Linked DNA regions of Homo sapiens. The protein of the gene in region 4 purifies or fractionates together with the protein of the main gene of each other region. This does not show direct contact. Each region holds a gene or a part of one and is shown on either strand. Other genes may lie near its edges. The genes, in order: HADHA, HADHB, ATP1A1 and NIPSNAP2.

Evidence for each region.
Region 1: the proteins of NIPSNAP2 (region 4) and HADHA purify together in Homo sapiens (affinity purification with mass spectrometry; 3 studies listed by BioGRID and IntAct, with this or other methods). This does not show direct contact.
Region 2: the proteins of NIPSNAP2 (region 4) and HADHB purify together in Homo sapiens (affinity purification with mass spectrometry; 2 studies listed by BioGRID, with this or other methods). This does not show direct contact.
Region 3: the proteins of NIPSNAP2 (region 4) and ATP1A1 purify together in Homo sapiens (affinity purification with mass spectrometry; 2 studies listed by BioGRID, with this or other methods). This does not show direct contact.

The regions. Positions count from the first base shown.
Region 1 is NC_000002.12:26,241,580-26,248,503, reverse strand, and holds the start of HADHA (trifunctional enzyme subunit alpha, mitochondrial precursor), read left to right. Parts: upstream 1-3,871; 5' UTR 3,872-3,907; coding exon 3,908-3,974; intron 3,975-6,924. UniProt on the Homo sapiens protein: Mitochondrial trifunctional enzyme catalyzes the last three of the four reactions of the mitochondrial beta-oxidation pathway.
Region 2 is NC_000002.12:26,247,939-26,254,938, reverse strand, and holds part of HADHB (trifunctional enzyme subunit beta, mitochondrial isoform 1 precursor), read right to left. Parts: intron 693-7,000; 5' UTR 685-692; coding exon 621-684; intron 510-620; coding exon 465-509; intron 1-464. UniProt on the Homo sapiens protein: Mitochondrial trifunctional enzyme catalyzes the last three of the four reactions of the mitochondrial beta-oxidation pathway.
Region 3 is NC_000001.11:116,397,222-116,404,274, reverse strand, and holds part of ATP1A1 (sodium/potassium-transporting ATPase subunit alpha-1), read right to left. Parts: intron 6,388-7,053; coding exon 6,237-6,387; intron 5,655-6,236; coding exon 5,486-5,654; intron 5,346-5,485; coding exon 5,191-5,345; exon of another isoform or gene 4,961-5,190; intron 4,856-4,960; coding exon 4,732-4,855; intron 3,415-4,731; coding exon 3,269-3,414; exon of another isoform or gene 3,146-3,268; coding exon 3,015-3,145; intron 2,722-3,014; coding exon 2,620-2,721; intron 392-2,619; coding exon 300-391; intron 1-299. UniProt on the Homo sapiens protein: This is the catalytic component of the active enzyme, which catalyzes the hydrolysis of ATP coupled with the exchange of sodium and potassium ions across the plasma membrane.
Region 4 is NC_000007.14:55,960,668-55,967,584, reverse strand, and holds the start of NIPSNAP2 (protein NipSnap homolog 2), read right to left. Parts: upstream 3,001-6,917; 5' UTR 2,976-3,000; coding exon 2,884-2,975; intron 1-2,883. UniProt on the Homo sapiens protein: Protein involved in mitophagy by facilitating recruitment of the autophagy machinery required for clearance of damaged mitochondria.

The DNA.
Region 1 (6,924 bases), on a different chromosome or scaffold from region 4:
TGTATAGCATATATAGGTCTCTAGCGTAAAATACTCAAGGTGGGCCAGGGGTGGTGGCTTACGCCACTGAACTCCAGCCTAGGAGACAGAACGAGACTCCGTCTCAAAAAAAAAAAAAGAAATACTCAAGGTGTTCACTATAGCACTGTTTATATTTGTGGAAAACCGTAACTAATCTAAATGCACATCAGTAGGAAACAGTTAAGTAAGTTATAGTATAAACACACCATGGAATACTGTTTGGCAGTTTGGAAAAGAAAATGAAACAAAATGATGTACATGTATATATACTGACATGGAAAAATGTCCATAATATATATTAAATGAAAAAGCAAGCTACAGAACAATGTGTATTAGAAATTAGAATAATAGATTAGAATAACTGGAAAATAGGGAAATGGGTAAGTAAACCCTACTACAACAACCATTTTGTGACAGAAAGAGAGAAAGAGAAAAGAAAGTCCCTGAAGCTATGAGTCTAGACATGGAAGGATAAAGAAAGGCTTTTATTTAATATTCTTCTGTTCTCTTTAATTTTTTTAAAATAAGCATTTTACTTATGCATAATTCTAGTTTTATTTAAAATCTATATATACTGTTGTTCCTCAGTATCCAAGGGGGATTGGTTCCAGAACCCCCCTCAGATACCAAACCTCAAGGATGCTCAAGTCCTTTACATAAAATGGCATAGTATTTATTTGCAAAGAACCTACACACATCCTCATGCATACTCTAAATCATCTCTAGACTACTTACAATACCGAATGCAATGTAAATCTATGTAAATAGTCGTTATGCTGTATCGTTTAGGGAATAATGATGAGAAAAAAAGTCTGTACATGTTCAGGACAAATGAAACCACTGTAGGCCTAACTACATTTTCACTCAGACATTGGTTGAATCTGAGGATGTAGAACTCACAGATACCAAGGGCCGACTGTACATCAATATCTTATATAAATATATACAAATATACAAATGCATTTTAAAAAGTCCAGAAAAATACACATCAAAATGTTAAAAGTAGTTATCTCCGGGTGGTGGAATTACAGATTTTCTTTAGACTTTTCTGTAGTTTCTGAATAAAAAATTACATGGAATATGTATTCCTTCAATAGTTAATAAAAAATAGAGATTTCAAAAGTAAGAGGGACTAAGCAAATTATCCTATAGCAGAGCTGACCTTTCTGTCATTTGCTAAACTTCAGAAAACAGAAATTTTGGTAAAAATATTCAAAGCATGGAAACTCCAGGGTAGGGTAGGGTAGGATCGAGTTGGTTAGGGTAAGCCTGAGTAAGGTGTGAACTATGGAAAGATACACGAAGCTGCAGGCACCTGGGAGCAAGGGAAAGGAAGAAGAGTCTAGGCAAGTAATGAAAACAAAAGCAAGATGGGGTGGCTCTAACAGCTCATTATTACAACTTTGAAACACAACGTAATGGTTAAGAGAACTAAAGCCAGACTATGTCCAAATCCTGATTCACCCTAGCTGTATGACTTTAAGCCAGTTACTTAACCACATAGGACGCGCACGCGCACACACACACACGCACGCACACCCACGTGCACACACCACTTAAAACAGTGCTTGATACACAGTTAGGGGTATACCTGTGTTTGCTATTACCAGTAGAGATGGTGATACAAATGTACTGTTTCCCTCTATATAAACCATTGGACTAAAGTGCTTAGGGATCAAAGAAACATTATAACATTTCTGCCCTGATGGAGCTTAGTTTTGTAGAGAAAGCACAGGGAGCAAAAAAATGGAGCCAAATGAGTGATCTAAATCAGGGATTGGCAAACTACAACACACGGGCCTCTAGCTAAAAATAGTTTTTCACATTTTTAAAGAGTTGTAAGGTCGGGCGTGGTGGCTCACACTTGTAATCCCAGCACTTTGGGGGGCAGAGGTGGGCGAATCACCTAAGGTCAGGAGTTCGGGACCAGGCTGGCTAACATGGTGAAACCCCGTCTCTACTAAAAATACAAAAAATTAGCCCGGCGTGGTGGTGTGCGCTTGTAATCCCAGCTACTCGGGAGCCTGAGGCAGGAGAATCACTTGAACCCGGGAGGAGGCTGCAGTGAGCCAAGATCGCGCCACTGCACTCCAGCCTGGACAACAAGAGCAAAACTGTCTCAAAAAAAAAAAAAAGTTGTAAACAAAACAAAACAAAAGAAACAATATATAACAGAGACCAAAGTGATCCTGCAAATCCTGAACTATTTACTGTCTGGACCTTTAACAACAACAACAAAATTTACCACTTCTGACCTAAATAATAAGTGTTACACGCAGTTAGGTGTTGAAGAAAGCATTACATGGGCAGGAGGCAGGCTCTGAACTGTAAAAACCTTGTAAGATTATCAAGAATCCTTTTTGCAATTTATTCAGAAGTGGTCAGGTCATCCAGTTTCTGCTTAAAGTGCTCACATGATGAGCACTCACTATGCAACTTGAGCTTTAAACAGAAACCTCTCTACTCTGTCTCTATACTCATTTCAGTCTTAACTTCGATGCCCCTTGTTTCCTGTCCTGCAGAGCTGTCAGTCTGGCGAGTAGTGAGACTCAGACTTATGTCTGAATGCTAGGTCTGTCACAGACTAGAAAATGTATATATTCTGAGCTTCCCAAACTTCATCTAGAAAATGCAAATGATAATAATTTGGGGAATGTGAGGACTAAACAAAAAGGTATGAAGGTGACCAGAGCACAGCAGGCTCTCAATGTGACTTCCTTTTGAAATCAATCACTTTATTCCAGGACTCCAGCCCATCATTCCAGCACAAAAACAGCTACCATGCAATGAAGAACTCTTCACTAGGAGTTAGTAGACTTAGGCTCCAGTCTTATTTCTACTACATATGGCCATGGGTAAAATCACTCTCTCTGATTCGTAGGCAGTTTCTTCACCGCTTAAGTGAGCTGAGGTGTGAACGACCAGATAGATAATCATCCAGATCGGAAAACCCCCGAGAGCGCAGGATTATCTGGATAACGGAGCCGGATGGAGGATTGTCTCCGTTCCTCCCACACTCAAGCCCCGAAAGGTCACCTGACCTAGTCTTATTCTTTACAGCAGAAATCGGGCAAACCCATGGCGCCGTCCACAATCTCTATAGCCGCCGACCTGGGTACAGGGGAAGCAGGCGAAACAACACACACTTCTACGCAGACCAGGGTTACATTAAGGCCGACGCCCACACACGCCCACACACACCCACACACACACACACACCCCCACACCCCCAGACTTCGTTAACTTGTGATGATAAATTAGGGCGCAGGTGACACTACTGTCCCGAACTTCAGCTGGAACGCTAGTCCAAGTCACTGTCCTAACTGCAGCTAGCACTGCCGACCTTGTCCGAGGAGTTTCCTTCCGCTCCCTCAACTCCCACTTTCCCAGGGAGGGGAGGGGGCCGGGGGCACCGGCGACAGTTGCGGGGAAGGAAGTGGAATCTCGCCTTTGGGAAAGCCCGGGCGGAGAGCTGAGGGCTCGCCGTCTCACCTTGGCTGACGTCCGCGAGGACTCCCTCTCGGAGCAAGGTTCAGGTCCAAGTACCAAGGCTCTGCGGGACCAAGGGGCGGGTCCTGCCCAGAAAGGGCCCCTCACCCCGCGGGCGGTCAGGGCCGTTCTTGAGGGCTGCCCTCCGGCCGCCTGACTGGAAAACCAGGCACTCCACCCCCTCCTCTCCGGGCCCCCGTCCTCCCCCGGAGAATACGACCTTTCGGCCATGTTAGCCAGGAGCGAGGGGCAGGGCTAAGGGGCCGGCGGCCACTCGGCATCTGGGTTTTAGTCAGGCAGTGCTCCAGGCGCCTGGCTGCCAGGCTACGGGAGAAAAGTCCTCCGCTCGGCCGCACCCGTTAGAGGCGCTCTCCACTGCTGTCCTCTTCAGCTCAAGATGGTGGCCTGCCGGGCGATTGGCATCCTCAGCCGCTTTTCTGCCTTCAGGATCCTCCGCTCCCGAGGTGAGGCCTGGCCGAGGGCATCCCAGACCTCCGGGCAGAACTCCTGCCGGGACTGGGGTGGCCCCGGAGCCGCGTCTCCCTTTCGCTGCCGCCTGCCCCAGCCCGGAGACGCAGCCCTCTGTGGGGATACTGCCCTGGGACCCGGTTTCCCGTGACCTTCTGAAGAGACTGTCACTTCCCCTCTCACGACTCCTGCGGCGATTTCAGGCTTCCTAACTCCCCAACTTTCTGAGTCTGGTGCCACTCGTTCTGTCACCTTTCCGCGGGTCTCTTGCGTCGCACTTCTGGGCTCACGCCCCTCATATTTTCTTGATCCGGAGTTCCAGGAGAATCGGGATCCATTCTGTCGCATCTTTGTGGCTCCACAGCACCTTGCCCCGCAACAAGAGCTGTCTTAAAAACAGCACCTTACCCCGCAACAAGCGCTGTCTTGTATGGGATTAATCAGCCTTGCAGATCACTGCCCCTCCCTGCTCCGTTCCCTCAAAACCATTTTTGTGCTTACTACCCCAATCAAGTAGGGAGCTCAACTCTTGCAGTTTCAGTAATGTCAGTGTGAACGTATAGTATTTTGAATTTCAGCGGGAAGTTCTGCAACTTACTGGAAGACACACTTTAAAAATACGCTAATACCTCTACCTTAAGCAATAAAATGTTAGATCGTTCTGAGAACGATTTGTAATCTGATGATTCCCAGTCAGCCTGTATTAGCTAGTGTTTTTCCTTTTCAAACTGGCAGTGAAAGGGTTAAAGTGGGTGGTTGTAGGAAACGTTGCATTTTCTTTCCATCCCAAATCTGTAAAGTCAAAAGTGGACAACGTTTTATTGCATGTTGTGCTTAATAAGTTACTTAACTAGAAATTTTAACTTTTAATTTAATTTGTAATATGAATTACCTCTCTTCCCTCTTCCGGAACCGCTGAAGTAGTATGCTTTTTTTAGACAAGTAGCTGAAATCCCTTACTGTAAGGGGATTTTTTTAATGATTGAATATTTTTCTGCTCCCTTTTTTCAACAGCTGTTTTTAGTCTCCACAAAACTGTAGCATGTATTTGCCAATTATAACATAAGCACATTATAGAACATTGAAATGCTGTAAGGATTGAGGAAAGAGATGAAAAAAAAACGAATCACCCATTGTCTTACTACTCATATGCTTACCTACGGTTAGCCTTCGGTTATGTTTCCTTACAGGTTTGGTGGTTTTTTTCCCCTATTTTCACAACACTTTTGAAAAGTAACGTGTAATTTTTATCTTACCCCTGCATTGGTTTGAAGGTATTTCTTATGGATCGGCAGCTGATGTCACTCGGAAGTGGTAGCCAGGGCACGTGGTTCTAGTCACTAGCTGTGTTACTTTGGACAAATGCCTTAAACTAAATGGGCTTTATTTTCCTCATCTGCAAAATGAATGATTGAGATGATGGATTTCCTTTGCATGAGAAGTAGCATGACAGAGCAATTAATAAACATTGTTTGGGCCGGGTGCGGTGGCTCACGCCTGTAATCCCAGCACTTTGGGAGGCCCAGGCGGGCGGATCACGAGGTCGGGAGATCGAGACCATCCTGGCTAACACGGTGAAACCCCGTCTCTACTAAAAATACAAGAAATTAGCCGGACGTGTTGGTGGGCGCCTGTAGTCCCAGCTACTCGGGAGGCTGAGGCAGGAGAATGGCGTGAGCCCGGGAGGCGGAGCTTGCAGTGAGCCGAGATCGCGCCACAGCACTCCAGCCTGGTCCTCCGTCTCAAAAACAAACAAACAAACAAAAAAAACATTGTTTGGAGTCTGACTTCTGGGTTTGGACCTGGCTCTGCCTTTTACCCTCTGATGACCTTGGGCAATTAATTTCTGTGTTTGTTTTCTCATTTGTAAAATGGGGAATAATACCACCTTGTGTGATGAAAAGGAGTTATTTTAGATATCAAGCAGTTTTTCATGGAGTAAGCACTCAGTAAATATTATTAACTCCAGCCTGGAAGAAATACGATTGTATATATCTGAGAGTTTTTAAAAGTAATTTGTACATCTTATGTGTGTAATAAAAAGCTACCAACCTAATTTTTCTGTTTTCTGTATAGAAATATATAGACACATAAATATATACTTTGCATTGTGTTTTCACCAGTAAGAAAGTATCATTCGTTGTAGTTACTGATCCCTTAATAGCAATTTATAAATTTTGAAAAAAAGTCTGGAAAGTGAATTTAAAATGACCTGCACCCTTATATTACTATTTAGACTCAATAGATCCTTCACAGTAAAAGTCTGTGCAAGGCTTTGCCAAACATTTAATGAGATTATGACCTTTGCTGGTGGATGATAAAATTCTCTTGAAAGGGGCCAGGCACGGTGGCTCATGCCTATAATCCCAGTATATTGGGAGGCCAAGGCGGGCAGATCACTTGAGGTCTAGCCTGGCCCACATGGTGAAACCCCATCTCTACCAAAAAATACCAGAATTGGCCAGGTGTGGTGGCACACGTCTGTAATCCCAACTACTCGGGAGGCTGAGGTGGGAGAATCGCTTGAACCCAGGAGGTGGAGGTTGCAGTGAGCCAAGATCACACCTGGAGGACAGAATGAGACCATATCTCAAAAAAAAAAAAATTATCTTGAAGGAGACTTGTAATTCTTGAAATTTTAAAGCATTCCTTCTCTACAAGTGCTATAATTCTGAATGTGAATATCAAATGAAAATCACTTCTTGACCAGAGTATGTTGTCTAATTCCCACTCCTATCCTAAATCTAAATTCCTAATTAGGTATTTAGTAGTAAATAGGTATTAGTAGTAAAATAATTTCACAGGAGATGAATTTAGAGGCAAATACCTTAATAGATGGTTTTTTTGTTTGTTTGTTTTTTCGGTTTTTTTTTTGGAGACGGAGTCTCACTGTGTCACCCAGCCTGGAGTGCAATGGTGCGCTCTTGGCTCACTGCAACCTCCGCC
Region 2 (7,000 bases), on a different chromosome or scaffold from region 4:
TATTAACTAGTTCCTAATCACTTCTATTTCAGGAATGGGCCCTCTTGCACATGGGAGAAGAAGATATTCATCAATAGAGAAGCATTTCACAAATTGCAAATTTAAAGTTAACTTTTGGTTCCATAGCAGGTCTCAAGAGCATTTGTATGCCATTCACCTCCAGGACGGACAGCAAGAGGATAAATAAACTGACCAACGAGGTTTATGGAACCTCCATGACTCCAGCAGGTTCAAATCCCAGAAAACAGCCTCCCATTAACATCCTCAAGCCTAATCCTAAATAATGTAGTATCATTATTGATTGGACCTATAATTTTTTAATTTGAAGGCAACAGAGATGTTCATGTGCTCATAAAAAGGGGAGAATTAGCAAATTAGTTTTGGTTTTTATTCAGAGTTCACAAACTATAGAATCTGGAATCTAACATTTAAATCAGAAATATTTATTTTACAAATTACTGTACCTGGGGCAGCTCGTAGCTGGGAGGAACAGCTCAGAGGTCTTATGGCTGGAAGACAAAATAAACTGTTTACAAAAAGCAATACCATTCAGTATCTGTGCGAGATGTTTATAAATCCAAATCCAATCTCTAAAAATAAAAAAATAATAATAAACTTACAAAATCTGAGGGCCCATTTTGATGCAGTGGGAAGATTTTTAAAGGGGTAAGTCAAGATAGTCATTCTGGAATCTAAAAAGAGAAGAACAAAAGTATATCCTGGATTAGCTGAACAATTTGTAGTTTACATTGTAGTCTATGAACTCTGATAACCTCATCCATGGCTACTAGAAAACATTAAAACTTAATCTTATCAACTATTCTTCATCTAATAATATTATTATGATAGGAACACCAACATGGTTTTCACATTGCAGCAACCACTATTCTAAGCATTAACCATCTAATCTTCACAATGACCTACAAAGGAGGCATGATTATTACATCCTTTGTAAGAGATAAGGAAATTGAGGCATAGTAGGATTGAGTGACTTGCCAAAAGACCTACAACTAGTGAGTGGCAGAGCTGGAATTTTTATTTATTTATTTATTTATTTATTTATTTATTTATTTATTTATTTTTTTGAGATGGAGTTTTGCTCTTGTTGCCCAGGCTGGAGTACAGTGGTGCAATCTCGGTTCACTGCAATCTTTGCCTCCCAGGTTCAGTCGATTCTCCTGCCTCAGCCTCCCGAGTAGCTGGGATTACAGGCACGTGCCACCACACCCGGCTAATTTTTTGTATTTTTAGTAGACATGGGGTTTTGCCATGTTGGCCAGGCTGGTGTCGAACTCCTGACCTCAGGTGATCCATCGCCTTGGCCTCCCAAAGTGCTGGGATTACAGGCGTGAGCTACCGCACCAGGCCCAGAGCTGGAATTTGAACCTAGGAAGTCTACCTCTAGAGTGTGTGCTCCTCTCCTTTAGGGTCAAAGAAGCAGAGAGACTGCTAGGCGTGATAATAAAACCATTAGTATTAGTTTCACGATTCTGAAGGCTGTACTATGATTATGTAGAAGGCTTTGTGGAATGTTTGTATCTGAAGGGAATATACACTAAATAGGGATGGTGAAGCATCATGTCAGCAACTTAATCTCAACTGCTACTAAAAAAAGTTTGTAGTACTGCACTTGCAACTTTTTCAAAGTTTGATACTGTATTGTTTCAAAACAATAAAAAAGTAAAACATATAATAACCCTATATGTTAAAAAATATGTAAAATATATTAACAACTTTCCCCCACCCCTCCAAAAAAGACTAAATTTCTAACAATGAGTTCCTACAGATTACTAAGGAAAACACTAGCAGACAAATAGGCACAGAATATGAACAGACCACAGAAAAGGAAATACAAATGGTTCTTAAGTATATGAAAAGATGTTCAATTTCACTCATAAGAAGAATTCAAATTAAAACCACAGATATAATTGTCTCTCAAAGTAGCAAAGATTCAAAGGTTTGATATATACTCTGTGTAGGTAAGAGTATGTGCAAATAGATATTCTCATATACTGCTGCCAAGAGAACTGGCACAGTCCATGGGGAGGGCAATTTGGTAATTATCCATGAAAACTATAACTGAAACTAATGTTTGAACCAGCAATTCCACTTCCATGAACTGACTTCATGGATATTACTCACACACAGGACATAATCCATATTGTTACTGTAATAGTCAAAAATTAGAATAACCAAAAAATAGGAAAATGGGTAAGTAAACCATGCTACAACACCCCTGTGAAATACTATGCAGCTGTAAAAGGTAAGGAAATGATTATGCACCAATTCGGAACCATTTTAAGCTGTATCATTAAGTGAAGAAAGCAAGGTGCAAAATAGCTGTACAGCATGCTATCATTCATGTTAAAAGAGGAAAAATATTATGTACATTTCCTTGTATCAGTATAAAATCCCCCTGGAAGTATAATAAAGATGTTAAAAATAATTGTTGGCTGGAAGAAAGGGAACTGGGTAACTAGGGGTCAGGGGTGGAAGACTTGTCATCACACACCTTTTATAATTTCTTAATTTTGAAGCATGTTTTAACAACAACAACAAAAAATCAAAACCAAAAAAATCCCACAAGATTTACCAACAAAGACTTTGGTAGCCAGCCTCCAAGTTGCCCCCCAATAATCTCTACCTCTTGGTATTCACATCCTTGTCTAGCTGCCTCCCTCTCCATATCACAGAATGTATAAACCAAAAAGTATGTTACAAGTAATGGTATGCCACTTCTGAGATAGGCTATAAGAGATACTGCAGCATCTGTCGTGGTCTCTCTCTCAGCTCACCCACTATGAGAGAAGCCAGGTGGCATGTCCTGAGCAGCCTTATGAAGAGGCTCCTGTGGTGAGGAACTGATGCCTCTTGCCAACAGCCATGTGAGTGAGCTTGGAAGCGGAGCCTCTAGCGCAGGCAAGCTTTCAGCTGACTCCAGCCCTGCCAACATTCTGACAGCCACCTTATGGGAAACTCAGAGCAACCCAGCTAAAGTGCCCTTGATTCCTGACCTTCAGAAACTATGAGATGGTAAACATGTATTGTTTTAAACTGCTACATTTGGCGGTAATTGGCTACACAGAAATAGATAATACAAAAGCTTTAAGGTTTAACTTCTCTTGGGTCTTTAGAGACTAAAAGAAGGAGGTCCTATAGCTTCCGAAAAGAAAAAAACAAAACATGTTCCAAACATGTGGATTGGAAAGAGATGGAGAAGCCCAAGCTTTAGGATCACCAGCCTAGGGATATTCAAAGGACTCTGGCCAGAGAAACACAAAGAGGCCCATGAGAGAGGCACCACTCAGAAGCTACTTACAATGCCACAAGGGTCTGGGCTACAAGTTCCCTTACGTAAGGTTCATCTTGAAATAAAATTCATGAAAATTGTCAAGAAAATGTTGAAAAACAAAAGGGGGAACCTTGTTGCAACAGATAACAAAACTTTCTAGGCCAGGCACAGAGGCTCACACCTGTAATCCCAGCACTTTGGGAGGCCGAGGTGGGAGGATCACTTGAGCCCAGGAGTTTGAGACCAGCCTGGGCAACCTAGTGAGACCCTGTCTTTACAAAAAATACAAAAAACTAGCTGGGCATGGTGGCATGTGCCTGTAGTCGCAGCTACTCAAGAGGCTGAGGTGGGAGGAGCACCCGAGCCAGGAGTTCGAGGCTGCAGTGAGCCATGATCACGCTACTGTACTCAAGCCTGGGCAACAGAGTAAGATCCTGTCTCAAAAAAAAACAAACAAAACACTTTCTAGAAAGAACCAATAATTAAAACAGAGCAGCTTTAGCACAGGAATAAACGACACTGATCAACAAAACAGGATGTAGCAGTTCAGAAGCAGACCCATGTATGTAAGAATTTAGTGTATAATAAATATAACACTTGAGTTAGCTGAGAGAAAGAAATTATTCCATGAATTCACTGGGAAAATGGCTAAACATTTGGAAAAAATTTTAGGTTCGCAGCTCACAGCGAAAGCACAAATAAATGCCAGACAGATTAAATATTTAAATGTATATATTTTAAATATATATATTCTAACTATAAAAGTACTAGAGGAAAACATCGGAGAATATAATATATACATACACACACGTGTATGTATTTTTTAGAGACAGGGTCTCGCTCTGTTGCCCAAGCTGTAGTGCAGTGGTATGATCATAGGTCACTGCAATCTGGAACTCCTGGGCTCAAGGGATCCTCCTGCTTCAGCCTCCTGAGTAGCTTAGACTACAGGCACATGCCACCATGCCTGGCTAATTAAAAAAAAAAAAAAAAACTTTAGAGACAGGCTAGTCTCAAACTCCTAGCCTCAAGTAATCCTCCTACCTCGGCCTCCCAACATGCTGGGATTACAAGCATGAGCCACCATATCCAGCCTCAGAGAATATTTTTATCACTTAGATGGAGAAGGGATTTCAACATATGGCACAAAACCCAGAAGTACAACAGAAAATAATAACTAATAGATCTGATCATATAAACATTCAAAATATACACATAGTAAAATATACTAAAATCAAGTTAAAAGGCAAATAGATTCAGAGAAAATATTTGTAACATGTAAAACAGAAAAGGGTTGATACCCATAATCCATAAAGAACTTGTACAAATTATAAGAAAAATAAGGCCAGGCGCAGTGGCTCATGCCTATAATCCCAGCATTTTGGGACGCCCAGGCAGGTGGATCACCTGAGGTTGGGAGTTCAAGACCAGCCTGACCAACATAGAGAAAGCCCATCTCTAATAAAAATACAAAATTAGCCAGGCCTGGTGGCACATGCCTGTAAGCCAGCTACTTGGGAACTGAGGCAGGAAAATCGCTTGAACCCGGGAGGCGGAGGTTGCAGTGAGCCAAGATCATACTATTGCACTCCAGCCTGGGCGACAGAGCGAGACTCCATCTCCAAAAAAAGAAAGAAAAAGAAAAACAGAAACAATCTATCATGGAATCTGTAGTTTGTACTCTAATATCCATTCCACCCAAATGTAGCTGCTGTATGTGGCTTACATGGGATTGAATCCAGCCCAACTCCAGGGTTTAAACCAATCAGAATAATCTCATTCTCTCTGCCAAGATCATTGATTCAGGTACCAAGGCCTCAAACAACCATGCACGGCATTGCCTTGACCACTGGTATTGATTTGTGGATGGTTTCATCAGTTTAACACTCAAGTCTTCTGCCTATAATTCTGGAACACAAATCTTTCCTTCTGAGGCCTGGCATGGCTACAGCAATTTGCAAACATTAACAAAGCTAGGCTAAGATAGAGCTAACACCAAACAAGCAGAAGAGTACGGAGCTGAGAATTCTGGAAAAAGAAGAGTCCTGGCCGAATCCCATCTGAAACCCAACCTCTCATTGTGCTTTTCAGTTCTGTGAGCCAATAAATCTCCTTTATTTATTTATTTATTTTTTTGAGACGGAGTCTCACTCTGTCGCCCAGGCTGGAGTACAGCGGCGCGATCTTGGCTCACTGCAACCTCTGCCTCCTGGGTTCAAGCAATTCTCCTGCCTCAGCCTCCCGAGTAACTGGGACTACAGGCGCACACCACCATACCAGGCTAATTTTTTTTATTTTAGTAGAGACAGGATTTCACCGTGTTGATCAGGCTGGTCTCGAACTCCTGAGCCTCCCAAAGTGCTAGGATTACAGGCGTGAGCCACCACGCCCGGACTAATAAATCCCCTTTAAGAAGCCAATTTGATTTGAATTTTCTGTTATTTGCAACTGAAAGACTCCTTCCTGATACATGACCAAAAGCAAGAATGAGAAAACAAGCCATTCACAGAAGAAATTAAAATGCCAAATAAACAAAATGTATAATGTTCAACCTCACTAACAAAAAGTTGTGATTTTCTTTTTTTTTTTGAGACAAAGTCTCACTCTTGTCCCCCAGGTTGGAGTGCAATGGCGCGATCTCGGCTCACTGCAACCTCCACCTCCTGGGTTCAAGCGATTCTCCTGCCTCAGCCTCCCGAGTAGCTGAGACTCCAGGCACGTGCCACCACGCCTGTCTAATTTTTGTATTTTTAGCAGAGATGGGGTTTCACCATGTTGGCCAGGCTGGTCTTGAACTCCTGACCTCAGGTGATCCGCCCGCCTCTGCCTCCCAAAGTGCTGGGATTACAGGCATGAGCCACTGCGCCCAGCCTTTTTGTTGTTGTTGTTGTTGTTTTTTAAATCAAAGCAAGGTATCATTTTGTGGTTTTCAGATTGGCAAACATTGAAAATATGGTTAATATATAATTCTAGTAAGAATGCATCTAACTAAATAGGCACTTCCATACACTAGAAGACATGTAAAATGCTAAGGCCTTTTGGGATGACAATTTTGTAGTTATAGATCAGAATTTAAAATGTGAATTTTTGAGTCCAATAATGCCTTTTATTGGTCTCTAACCTATAGAAATATTCAAAATGTATGTATAGCATATATAGGTCTCTAGCGTAAAATACTCAAGGTGGGCCAGGGGTGGTGGCTTACGCCACTGAACTCCAGCCTAGGAGACAGAACGAGACTCCGTCTCAAAAAAAAAAAAAGAAATACTCAAGGTGTTCACTATAGCACTGTTTATATTTGTGGAAAACCGTAACTAATCTAAATGCACATCAGTAGGAAACAGTTAAGTAAGTTATAGTATAAACACACCATGGAATACTGTTTGGCAGTTTGGAAAAGAAAATGAAACAAAATGATGTACATGTATATATACTGACATGGAAAAATGTCCATAATATATATTAAATGAAAAAGCAAGCTACAGAACAATGTGTATTAGAAATTAGAATAATAGATTAGAATAACTGGAAAATAGGGAAATGGGTAAGTAAACCCTACTACAACAACCATTTTGTGACAGAAAGAGAGAAAGAGAAAAGAAAGTCCCTGAAGCTATGAGTCTAGACATGGAAGGATAAAGAAAGGCTTTTATTTAATATTCTTCTGTTCTCTTTAATTTTTTTAAAATAAGCATTTTACTTATGCAT
Region 3 (7,053 bases), on a different chromosome or scaffold from region 4:
TACTTATTTACATGTTTTTAGGAATACCAAGTTACCTGGAAAGATGGTTTAGATTCTGACAAGTTTTCACTAAATCATACTTGGTTTGTATTTTAAAGTCTAAAACATGACCAGTCCTCAAACTGTAACTGAGATCTACATTCTGAAGATGTGACTATGGTCAGTTTGCTGGTCCAGTCACCTTAGCTAATCAGACTGACCACTGAGGGAGCCTAGACACCTTGAGGGAAACAAAAAACCAATAGAACTATAGCCCCTCCCACTCCTCCTCCAACCAAAGTCAGAATGCCCATAATTACCGCCAGGGCGTCGCCTGATGATGAGTTTTCTGACTTCGTCATATACGAAGATGAGAAGAGAGTAGGGGAAGGCACAGAACCACCAGGTAGGTCTGGAAATAGAGTAAGGTACCAATTTATATGCACACGAACACAGTTCAAATAAAGAAAGAGAAATTGCACATCACCAGTGACAATGAAATAATCAGCCTGAAAGGAGAAGCCAAGTACAGTCACAGTTAACTACTGAGTCATTAACAGAACAAATAAAAATGTCTTAAAACAGATTGCTACTCCATGTGCCCAGGGCCTAGAGACGCAGAGGAAATCAGTCTGCAGACTTTGTAATGGAATCCCTACTCATCTTCAGTTTGGATTTCATAAGACTTGGTTTATAGGATGAGCAGAGTACTTTTCTGTTAACCATCCCAGAGCAACTGAACATTTTCTTTCTTTCATTTCTAAAGTGTTTAAGAAGCTTTTTAAGACCATCTGCCTAATATCCCAGCATTTTGAAGATAAAGACCTGCCAGTGTGGGTCAAAACCAGTTTATGCATTCCCCAAATTTGATCTCTGACAACAGCATTTGGGATATCAGCTCTGTGTTCTGAGGCCTGGTCCTGGGGACTGAAAAAAGCTGAGCCCGAAGGCTTCCAAGGGGCCTGGAGGCTGAGCCACACAGTCTCTAGCCTGCTGACAGGCTCCAGGCAGCCTCCGTGATCACCAGCTCCCTGCTATGGTGTGAGAAAGGCTGTCCCTGGGCAGGACTCCGGTGGTCTCCTCTTCTTCCTGTGTGTCTGACAAGGCAGCTAAGAGAGATGATCTCATTTGACTCAGTCACCGAATAACTGAACCACCTTCCAAAATTGGGCAGAACCTGTCAGAACAATCTCTTTGGTGGTGGCAAAAAAACCAGGGAAGGACCCAGAAGATGGAAATGCCCCCTTTTCAGTGTAATTTTCCACCAGCCTTTTTGGAAAGCTCTGTGACCTCTCCAAGCCCCATCTTGATACATAATGGCCCAAGCTGACAGAATTCAATTTGGAGATGGCTGGCCCCTGCTGTACACCAGCTTTGTGTAGGGAGCTGGGGATGCACAGAGAAGAAAGACACTGTGGCCCATGCCTTCTAGATTAAAACCTAGCAGGGAGGTGAAATGACAAGCAACAAGTAATGCCAGAGAAGAGGTGCAAGTGCACAGGCCCTGGAGGGACAAGCTCCAAGGAAACCGGCCCTGAAGGGACTATCAGGATTGGCAGGGTAAGAGGGAACAGAAGGAGGGATGTGGGGAGGAAGGATCTTACCAAACACAAAGGCAGAGGAAGAAAGCCGAATTCACCTAACATGAGCTTGGATGGGTAAGGGGTACAAGAGAAAGCTATAAAGACAGGTTGGGACAATGAGACTGACTCTGGATGCCAGTCTCATCTTGCACCACAGACGATGTCTGCACATAACCCACAGGAAGTGAATGAGGCTGATGGGTTTTGGTTACTTTAGGGATAAGATGAGCTGAAGGAAGTGCTGGCAACAGGGGATTGAGAGATGGTCCAGACGGGTCTGAGCAAGGATGAGGACAGCAGGAATTCAAAGGAGACTAATGCTTTAAATCAAAAGCTTCAAAGGAACTTGTAAATGGGTCCCACAATCTGTGGCTTTGCACGTTTTAATCAAGTTGCAGTTGCTTAACCTCAACCAGGTATCACCAAACATACTCAATGTTGCAAAAAACTAACGGAGTTTGTGATAAACCCTCTTTGAAAATTCAAGTTTATCTGAAATGCAGAGTCATTCACTGTGTTTAAGGCCAAAGACTAGCAGTATGCTTCCTTTGATCAACTCTACCCATGACTGATTATAAAGTAAAAGGGACCTCAGATCTGTTTCTCCAACCTTCTTTCTTTGAGAGCAGAGTATTCAGAGTCTCAGAAAGGTGGATGACTTGTAATGGGACAGTGACTAAGCAAGCAAATCAAGATTTGAGCCTGGGCGCCTACGCTCCAGCATACCCCCAGTTGGCCTCTAAAGACAACTGGACTACAGCTGTGGCAGACCTGAGTGCTCAATGCAGTTCGCTGTTGAGCAGTTCCATGGAGCTAGAGCCTGTGTGGCTTTATCTTATCTTGGGCCAAATCCTAAACACTAGCTGCTATCATGGAAGCCTCAGGATTTGTTAGTCTGATTTACTGACATGTCAAGCTTTCACAGTTTTCCAACCCATAGGAATTTTTGTACATACCACTCAAAATTCTGAAAATAACAACTATTACCACAAGTAATGGGGGGAAAAGCCACACATACTATTTCATACTTTTTGGAGCTACCAGAGGATCAACTTACTTGAGGGGATACATCCTAAGAGCAACACCCATTCCAGGGCAGTAGGAAAGGAAAGCAGCCAGGGCTGTCTCTTCAAAGAGGCCAAATATCAAGATCTTGTTCCTAAAATCAAAGTAGGGGAGAAAAAACTTAAAAGGTGCAAATAAAGGTTTATCTTCTAATGCTATGCATTAAAATGGCAGATCAACATCTTTATGTATTAGCTGTACTTGAAAACTTGGAGGTCAGATGAAAAAACTAGAAAGCTACATTTCTTGCTTCCTAAATTTGCTCTATAAACTAGAGATTCCAGAAACCTGGCTATATGTGTCATATGTTTAGTTTTTGGCAAAGGGTTTACAAATCACCAGTCCCCTTCTTTGAGCCAAGGCCTTGACATGTCCTTCATTACTTACTTCATCCCCTGCTGGAAGACCGAATTCCTCCTGGTCTTACAGATGACCAAGTCGGCCCACTGCACCACCACGATACTGACGAAGAAGGCTGTGTGGCAGGTGAACTCCACGATTTTCCTCTGCTCATAGGTCTGAAATGCAGAAGACAGAAGATGAGCTCTGGCTCTTCACCTGCATGGCTGGTGGCAGTGTGGCCTCAGTCTTCTGGGGCTTGAGGAGCTCTGACACTGGTCAGGTCAGAGGTGCCCACTCACCCACTGCTGCCCGTAGCTGTCTTCCACATCGTTGATCCAGCGGTCATCCCAGTCCACTCGGAGGCCCAACAGGTGAATTGGGAGGAAGCCGTTCTCAGCCAGAATCACAAAGTAAGTAAAGAAGCCTCCCAGGGCCTGGATCATTCCTAAGTTGGGAAAACAACCCAATTACTAGAACCTCACACACAAGGGTACCTGTATAGCCTTCAGCTGATTACTGCAGCAGGCCTGGGAGAGCACATATGGAGGAGTGTTTCCCCCTGGTTGATAAAAGCACAGGAAAGAATTGCCTGGTCACTCACAGGCTATGAGGGATGGGATGGAGGACCCCAGGCATACACTCCAATCTCAGGGCCCTCTGCTTTTTGAGTCACTTTTTGGAGCCTACACAAAGACACATGTGCCTTGCTCTCAAAATGCCCACCTGTTACTTGACCAGCTGCTTCTAAGGGTATGACCTTTAGGGGAAATCCACTTCCCTACTTTTTAATCTCTGACAAATGATAACTTCTTTTCCATCTTTCAAAATTCCTACATGCTGCCATTTTTCTAGCCACTGTGGCACTTTCTGACTCTCCTCCCCACCTTCAGGACCCTCCTCCCCCTGGCATCCAATTTAACCACGCTGCTCCAAGTTCCTCAGGGCAGGGTTTCATCCTAAACCACCAGAGACCTAGTCTTCCTTCCTCTCAAAAGCAGGCCTCCTTGGAGAAGGTCAGGATGGGCCACCAGCCAATTACTTTGTTGCCAACAACTGTCTAATGAATCTTTGCCATAATTTCCACAATATTCTATCTAATCTGTTCTTCTTTATCCAAGCGTTCACAGTTATGTGACCCATTAATCCAGGAGAATAAGACATCCATGGTGGCTTTGCCAGGTTCTCTTGAAGGAACCCTAGGCAGAGGATTTAAAAACAAATGGCATGCTGATTGCCCACCACCTGGATCACCTGTTAGCTAGTCATGCTGCACTGTGGGGGCAGAAGTCCAGTGTGAGGTGGATGGAGGATCACCCTTTGGTGGTGACCTACCAGCCAAACTCTCAAACACATATACTTTCTCCAATGCCTAACTCCATCCAAGTGAGTGACAGATAAGTGTGTATCTCCAGGGAAAGCAGCCTGTGCGTCAGTACACACAATTCCTTAGAACCATGCCTCCTGTTCCGCAAGGCTCAGTGAGGAAGGACATCCTCATTTCTCAGGCAGAGTTGAGCCCAGTTCCAAGGTGCTCAGTATAGAAAACCAGTTTCCACAAAAGGTAACTGGGCAAACAGCAACAGATGTATTCTCACATGGAAGAGAGTTCAGAGAAACTCCACAGGCTCACTCCGTTAGGGCTCATCCTAGACCTGAAAGTCGCCTGGATTTGCAGTCTCTGAAATCAACCTCAACCTGAGGTGGACACCATCACCTCAGATGCCTTAGATGTGCCAGCTTCCCACTCCAGGCTGCAGCTTACCAATCTGCCCATAGGCCATGCTGATCAGCCGCTCATTCACAAGTTTGTCTGTTTTGGGATTTCTGGGCTGTCTCTTCATGATGTCACTCTCAGCCTGCTCATAAGCCAGGGAGATGGCAGGAACCTGGGAAGGGGTGGGGAGAAGGAATTTAGTTACTAAAAATAAGGAAGCTAATATTGTGAACCTTTTGTTATAAAATTCTTGCCCTCCCATTTAAAAATCTTTTAGGTGAAGTATACAAAAATAAAGATTCCCATCTGATAAACAAATGTTAACTGCTGCCTTGAAGAGTGGTAATACTGATTCTGTGAAGCCGGGATTGGGACACACACTGGATACTGGTCCTGAGAATTTCTTTTCCCAACGCCAGCCTCATGGATGCTGGGAGCATAGTGCCAGTGAATGAAGACACAGCTCACACCTCACTACTATCGATCTGTGACTGTTGTGACACTCACCATGTCAGTGCCCAAGTCAATGCAGAGGATGGTGACAGTCCCCAGTGGTAGTGGAATGTTTGCAATAATAAATATCAGGAACGGGGTGATCTCGGGAATGTTACTGGTTAAGGTATAAGCAATGGATTTCTTCAAGTTATCAAAGATCAGACGACCTATGAAAACCAAGATTTTTTACTGTTAGCTTATGAGACAAGCACACTGGAAACTGAACATATCCAAGAAGTATACAGAAATGGATGCTAATGGGCAGTATCTGAATAAGATCTTGGTGTACACCTTAAATAGCTCTCACCTTCCTCTACTCCAGTCACAATTGAGGCAAAGTTGTCATCCAGAAGAATCATGTCAGCAGCTTGCTTGGACACATCTGAGCCAGCAATCCCCATAGCAACCCCAATGTCTGCTTTCTTCAAAGCTGGAGAGTCATTCACACCGTCACCAGTCACAGCCACGATAGCACCCTACCCCAGAAAAGGGAAAACGGGTTAATACCAATCACTTTTCCTAGCGATGGAAATAGTGCGATGCATGCCCCCACTGAGCACTCATTACAGACACTGCTCCTTTCCTATTGAGACTATTTATGAAGCCTGAGAACCGTCACAGGCAAGTATTCACACAGGCCCTACACCAAATAACAGAACTGAGAAGTGACAACAAACATAGCCCCCAGCATTAACAAGAGCTACTCAAAGTAATGACTCTGGTGGGTGGCACTCCAGAAAATGCCATTCCTGTATGCACGCCCTGTAGTCTGACCACTCACATCTCTATTGCAAATACTAGGACCCCATATCAGATGACTCCACGGAGCGGTCAGGCTCTGGGACACAGTGGACACCTGGACTTTAAAGTGCTTCTGTCACTGCTAAACCATTAACAAGTCACCCTCTCTATGCCTATGAGCTTCCTACTGGCCTATTTATACTGAGTCTAATACAGCGAGGTATGCATCCATCCATCACCGTTGCTCTGTTTCCACTGGAACTCCAATCCCTAAAGCCAATAGTGCCCAAAGCAGCCTGATCCTTGTGCTGGCTGACCTGTCTTTGGCAGCCTTCCACAATGATGAGCTTCTGCTGAGGGGAGGTCCTGGCAAACACTATCTCAGTGTGGTACTTCAAAATGTCATCCAGCTGCTCGGAGGTCATGTCCTTTAGATCACTGCCGTGTACTACGCAGGCCTTGGCATCCCTAGAATTAGGACAAAAAAAAAAAAAAAGTCACGCATCACATCACCAGCATGTGTCCATCACCTCAAGAGGGGATATTCTTATGCAGATCACTTTGTAAACAAAACAAAGAAGGAATTTTCCCCAGCACATAAAAGCTATTAAGTGTTCAGTACTTTACAGGTTACAGAGCATTTTCATATATTTTATCTCATTTGAGGCTCATGATGATCTCTAAGGCAGGCCTGTCTGTATTCTTCCTTTCCCTATCTTTATTAGACATGCTGAAATATAACCAAGTTTTAGCTGGGTGTGTGGCTCATGCCTGTAATCCCAGCACTTTGGGAGGCTGAGGTGAGTGGATCACTTGAGGTCAGGAGTTCGAGACCAGCTTGCCAAAATGGTGGTCTAAAAATTCAAAAATTAGCCGGGCATGGTGGTTGGGGCCTGTAATCCCAGCTACTTGGGAGGCTGAGGCAGGAGAATCACTTGAACTCAGGAGGTGGAGGTTGCAGTGAGCCAAGATCATGACACTGCACTCCAACCGGGATGACAGAGCGAGACTCCATCAAAGAAAAAAAGAAATATAACCAAGTTTTAGAAAGTGGCAGAGCTGATACAAGACCAAACCCTCCTCTAACCGTAACATAGGGTGAAAGGGCCCTAAACCTTAAAACAAAACCAATTT
Region 4 (6,917 bases):
TGAGGTGGGAAGATCCCTTAAGTCCGGAAGGTCAAGGCTGCAGTGAGCCGTGGTCATGCCATTAAACTCCAGCCTGGGCAACAGGGCAAGACTATCTCCAAGGAAAAAAAAAAATTCTTTAGTCATCCCCTTCACTAACAGGTTCGAGCCCACACTCTTCGTAGGAATCCAGACGAGTATTGCTGAGGGTTGAGCTAGGGCAGTGAAGATGGAGAGGGTGGATTCAAGACATACTAGAGGCAGAACTGACAGATTTGGTAAATGATAGATGGCGGGAAAAAGAGGGATGGGCTTGGGGAAGACCATCTGGTGTCTGGCCTGGGCCACCACATGGAAAATGTTTCATGACTGGAGAAGAACAACCAAAGAAAAGCAGGCTTCACAGAAGGAAGAGGAGTTAAATCCTGGGTACAGCAGTGTTTTAAGCACCTGTGAGACACTTATGCAATGTCCAGGAAGCGGCTGGGAATTCCAAGCTTGCTGCTGAGCAGCACTAAGTGAAATACGCTGGCTAATGTACAGGCAGGGATGAGGCTCCCGGGAGGACGCCCTTCTCCCTTGCTGAAACTGATTCAGCAAATCCTGTTTTCTTCTGTCATTTTACCTAACACTTTGGCAGCGGATGGCACTCCCTCCCTCCTCCTGGCCACTGCCACATAACAATGAGCTTGCCAGCTCCCCCTCCTACATTCAGCCTATATACGCTGCACATCCCAGGACTTGCTTTGCAGCCCCTTCTCTCTCCACACTCTCGCCTCAAGCAATCTCACACATTCCTATATTTTTTTGTTTGTTTTATTTTGGAGACAGGGTCTGGCTCTGTCACCTAGGCTGGAACGCAGTGGCATGATCTCGGCTCACTGCAACCTCCACCTCCCAGGTTCAAGCCATACTCCCACCTCAGCCTACCAAGTAGCTGGGACTACAGGCGTGTGCCACCATGCCGGGCTAATTTTTGTATTTTTTGTAGAGATGTGTTTTGTCATGTTGCCTGGGATGGTCTCGAACTCCTGAGCTCAAGCGATCAGCCCAGCTCGGCCTCCCAAAGTGCTGGGATTACAGCCTGAGCCACTGCACCCGGCTTCCTATGGTTTAAAAAAAGTTTCATTATACAAATTTTTATTTATGTACTTATTTATTATTAGGGACAGAGTTCCACTATGTTGCCCAGGCTGGTCTCAAACTCCTGGGCTCAAGCAATCCTCCTGCCGCAACCTTCCAAAGTGCAGGGATTACAAGTGTGAGTCACTGCGTCCAGGCTTTATTATGAAAAACGTAAATCAAATACGAAACAGTATAATGAAATCCATGTGTCTATTAACATTTAGCATTCCTATATACTGACAACTCCTAAATGTTACCTGTAGCCCAGACACCTCCTTTGAGGAGTCATACTGCCAACTGTCTGTTTGCGTTTCCACTTGAATAGCACACAGCCTTCACAAACTTTACCAGGTCCTAAACTGCTCTGAATTCTTCTTCCCCAGCCCTCCTGAATTACTGGTAAGCTCCGGATGGCCTTGGACGCCTTATTCACTGATGTCTCTCAACAGTCAACAGTGCCTGGCACGTGGTAGGCACTCACATTTTGGCAGAACAGCTCTCTGCAAACTCTCAACTCTCAGTGCCAGGGTCCACTCAGCTGGCCACTACCCTTAATTCTGCCCCCTCTCCCAAGTCAGACTCATCTTTTTAAAAAGATCAGGCCGCGCCTGGTGATTCACGACTGTAATCCCTGCACTTTGGGAGGCCGCGGCAGGTGGATCACCTGAGGTCAGGAGTTCGAGATCAGCCTGACCAACATGGTGAAACCCCGTCTCTACTAAAAATACAAAAATTAGCCGGGTGTGGTGGTGCATGCCTGTAATCCCAGCTACTTGGGAGGATGAGGCAGGAGAATTACTTGAACCCGGGAGGCGGAGGTTGCAGTGAGACAAGATCGTGCCGTTGCACTTCAGCCGGGGCAACGAGAGCAAAACTCCGTCTCAAAAATATAAATAAATAAACAACAACAATAATAATAATAATAAACCATGTTACTGAAACCTCCCTGGCCCATGGCGAGTTTAACACACAGTTCCTTAGGTAATTTAAACTACCCAAAGCAATGAATACGAGAAAGCAACTCTGGGTAAGTCAGGATAGGCTTTGCTGTTTGAATGTGGAAAACAGCACATGCAAATATCAAGGTGATGAATTTGGACAACCAAACGTCCAATCCACTGAAGTTAGAAAAAAAAAAAAGTTTAAACAAGAGCCCCACGCCTGAACTTAGTGCTGATAACTCTAAGTACTTTTAGATCCACGGCCGGCTTTAAATTTCAACTCCAAGACGTTAAGTGATTTGACCTCCTCCAAGCTCTAACTTCCCCTACGCTCCGCGGAGAGCTGGCCCGGGACAATGCTTTACTCTTTTATTCCCTACTCCCGGCACCTCAGAGACCAGGGTCACCAACGTCCTCGGCAGACGCAGCCACTCAGGCTTGGAACAGCCTCCGGCGAGGACCCAGCAGACGGCGTCCGGGGCCTGCGGCCTCAGGCGCGCGCTGTCCCTGTCCCTGGCCACGGGTCGCGCCGGTCAGGGCCCTGCAGGCCGGGCCAGCGCCGCGGGGAGGATGTGGCCTCCGGGCCAAGCCTCGGGGGCCTTCCCGGGCGAGGGTGGAGCCGCAGAGCGGCCCGTCCCCTCCGTGACCTTGAGCCCGAGGACGCCCCGACCCCGCCCCAGCTCCGGCCCCACCCCAGCTCCGGCCCCACTGCCCCGAGGCCGGGCAGCCACCCGCGCTGGGGACAGGGCCGGGGCGGAGACCGGCGCCGGGAAACCCGCGCCCTCCGCCTCGCGGCGGCCCCTCCCCGGCACCTCCCGGGAAGGGCGGCGCTGCTCACCGGAGCCTGGGCAGGAGGCTGCAGGGGGCCGCCCGCTGCAGGAGGCCGCCGGCCCAGGCCGCTCCGCGGGCGCGCAGCACTCGCGCCGCCATCTTGCTCGGCGCCTCGGCTCCCACCGCCCGGGCGCCGCCGCTGACGCCGCCGCCGCGCGACCCCTCCCCCGGCCGGGCCCCAACGCGGCCACTGCAGTGCGGGGCGCGGCCGCCAGGGGGAGCAGGGCGCGCGGCCGCGGGGGTCGGCGGGGCGTCCAGGCGCCAAGGCCCGGCCGCTGCGGGAAAGCGCGAAGCCCAAGCGCAGTCAGTGCAAGCCGATCACTTCAGCGGGAGGAGCTCGGTGCCCAGAAGCGCGGGTGCAGAAGGGACAAGGGCATAACTTCAATGATCAGGGAAAACTCCAAAAGGAAAGAGTAACACTGTGCCTAGGGGAATCCAGGGCCTGGGGCGGGGCAGTGGCAGTGGGTTTACCCCCACCCCACCCCGCCAATGTCTTTTAAATTTTGTAGTATATGAATATATTGTCATTTCAAAAAGCCCCACAACGCTTTAACAAGTGCATTCTGGGGCCGGACGCAATAGCTCACGCCTGTCATCCCAGCACTTTGGGAGGCTGAGGCCGGAGATCTCTTGAGGCCAGGAGTTCGAGACCAACCTGGGCAACATAGCGAGCCCTCACTGTGCAAAAACATTTTTAAATTAGCCGGGCATGGAGGAGCACGTCTGTGATGCCAGCTACACTGGAGACTGAGGCAGAAGGATCGCTTGAGTTCAGGAGGTGGAGGCTGTAGTGAACTATGATCGTGCCACTGCACTCCAGCCTGGGCAAACACACGACGTCCTGTAGCGAAAGAAAGAAAGAGAGAAAGAGAGAGAAAGAAAGGGAGGGAAAGGAAGGAAGGAAGGAGAAAGAAAGGAGGAAGGAAGGGAGGCAGGAGAAAGAAAGGAGGGAAGGAAGGAGAAAGAAAGGAAGGGAGGGAGGCAGGAGAAAGAAAGAAAGAGAGAAAGGAAAAGAAAAGAAAGCAAGTGAGGAAAAAATTAAAAAACACCATACACACACAAAAAAAATTAAGGAGAAAGGACTGGGAAGGTTCTCTTGAGGTCTTGGGACTGCATCGTTCCCATTCATTTCAGCACCGGTGGGCACTGGCCATGGGGAGTCCTTGGTACCTTACCCTCAAGGCCGTCTGGGTCTAGTGGGGACAGAATGTACAATGATGATTGGACCGAGTGTGTTAAGTGTCAAAATGGACAGGTTCATGAGACACGAAAGAGGCACGGAAAGAGAGCATGTAACCGGGGGTGGCTGTGAATTAGAGGATAGATGGGGAGAAAGTTCTCCAAGGAGCTGGCAGGACATATCAGTCCCAGGGGAAGAAGGGAGGGCATCCCTGTCTTGAGGAAATAACTTAAGCAAAGGCGTGGATCTGGGTGGCTGGCGCTATAGAGGGAAAAATGTGTCCTCCAGGAAGATTTTTTAAAAAGCCACAAATGAGCCAGGCACGGTGGCTCACGTCTGTAATCCCAGCACTTCGGGTGGCCGAGGCGGGCGGATCACCTGAGGTCAGGAGTCCGAGACCAGCCTGGCCAATATGGTGAAATCCCATCTCTACAAAAATACAAAAATTAGGCAGGCATGTTGTCGGGTGCCTGTAATCCCAGCTACTCGAGAGGCTGAAGTGGGAGAATTGCTTGAACCTGGGAGGTGGAGGGTGCAGTGAGCCGAGATTGTGCCTCTGCACTCCAGCCTGGGCAACAGAGTGAGACTCCATCTCAAAAAAAAAAAGAAAAGAAAAAGAAAAAAGCCACAAATATAACCATGAAAACTGCAACCAAGGTGAGGGCAGGAGGAAGGAAGCTGGACCCTGGGGGTGGGGGAGAACCTGGGAGAAGTAGGGGCTCTGGCCACCAAAGGGAGCATTTCCAGGCCAGTGCGGGGCTGCAGAGGCAGAGAGGAAAGTGCCCTCAGGACTGGGTTGCTTGGAGGTCATAAGGTGGACAAAAACTGGGAGGTTCCCTGAAGCTGGTAATCTTGGGGGCCAAGGGAGCATCAGGGCTCAAGGGGTGCAGTTTTCTGACTGGGGTAGAATTTGAACACGTTAATATGGCAAGGAGCCACCAGGGAGGACAGAGGTGGACCCTGTGGATGGAGGAGGGCTTTGCCCCAGAGCAGGGAAAGGCACCTGTCCCTTGGAGGCCAGTGGGATGGAGGCCAAGGGACACAAGGATAGGAGGCCAGAGGCTGTGTGGCTGAGGACCTCCTGGCCTCAACTAGTGTATGCTTAGTAAAGCTGTGGAGAACCCTGTAAGAAGTACTTTTTAAGTGGTCCATTTTCAGAAAACAGACAAGTCTGGGCAGTTCCCTTGTGGATGTGACAAGATGCACGGGTACAGACATCTGGGAAGAGTGATAAAACTCACAGAAGTCAGAGGGGAGGGAGAAAAGTGGCAGGGGTGTCTAATCCATAAAAGGAAAGAAAGCTTAGCCATTGGGAAATCGAAACTTCAAGTAGGGAAGAGGACAAGATGTAACCTAATAAGGGGATAATGGAACTTAGGTGATGTCCAGGAAGACTGCAACCCCATATTACTCAGCCTGTGAGGAACTGGGGAGGGACCTGTGCTCTAGGGGATAAATTGTTGAAACTGCACTGGGTGTGCCTGCCCATCACACATCCGATCTTGCAAAACCATTATTAAAAAGTCTTACTTTTGTCCGGGTGCGGTGGCTCATGCCTATAATCCCAGCATTTTGGGGGGCTGAGGCTGGTGGATCACCTGAGGTCAGGAGTTCAAGACCAGCCTGGCCAACATGGTGAAACCCCATCTCTACTAAAAATACAAAAATTAGCCGGGTGTGGTGGCGCATGCCTGTAATCCTAGCTACTCGGGAGGCTGAGGCAGGAAAATCACTTGAACCTGGGAGATGGAGATTCACCTGGGAGGTGATCTCAGCTCAGCAATGAGCTGAGATCGCACTGCTGCACTCCAGCCTCAGTGACAGATCAAGACAGACTCTCAAAAAAAAAAAAAAGTCTCACTTTCACTGTTCTTCATGCCTCTAAGTCCATTCTTTGGGTTTGAATGGGTGAGTGTGTTTCTCACACTCCAAAGAGAGGCAGAAGTGAGCTCTCTCCAGGGTATCAAGGACTTGGCCCAGCCCTACAGAGCAGGAGGCCAGGCCTCTTTAAGGGTGGATGAGCTCCTGTGACTGTCACAAATGCCCCCAATTTCTCAGCTCTGTTTCATGAGACACCTGCTTTTAAATTTATTCTGAAATATAAACTGTAGCTAGACACTTCTTTGCTGACCTTGCTTTTGTGTTTAGTATTAGCCTGCTTAGCCTGCATTGCTTTTCTCCACTATCATTTTGTTGTGGAGTTCCATTCACTCAGGACTTTTTACTGGGGAAAAAGAGGGTACTCTGATTTCACAGCTGTGTGGCTTCAGATATTTGAAGCCATAGAATAAACATAGCAAGTCTTCCTGGAGCATAAGTTTTATACAAAGACTCTCAGGAAAAAGTATGTGTTAAAATATAAACAAGTATCATTTATATGTTAACATTTCAGTGGTACTTAGGTATAATTTATATTTTAATACTTCGATGGTACTTAAGTATCATTTCTATTTTAATACTTGAATGATACTTAGGTATCACTTATATTTTAATGCTTCAATGGTACTTAGGTATCATTCATATTTTAATACTTCAATGGTACTTATACATCATTTATATTTTATTTTATTTTTTATTTTTTTGAGATGGAGTCTCACTCTTGTCACCCAGACTGGAGTGCAGTGGCACGATCTTGGCTGACTGCAACCTCCGCCTCCCAGGTTCAAGCGATTCTCCTTGAGAATCTGCCTCAGTCTCCTGAGTAGCTGGGATTACATGTGTGCACCACCACGCCCCGGCTAACTTTTGTATTTTTAGTAGAAATGGGGTTTCACCGTGTTGGTCAGGCTGGTCTCCAACTCCTGATCTCATGATCCGCCTGCCTCAGCCTCCCAAAGTGCTGGGATTACAGGCGTGAGCCA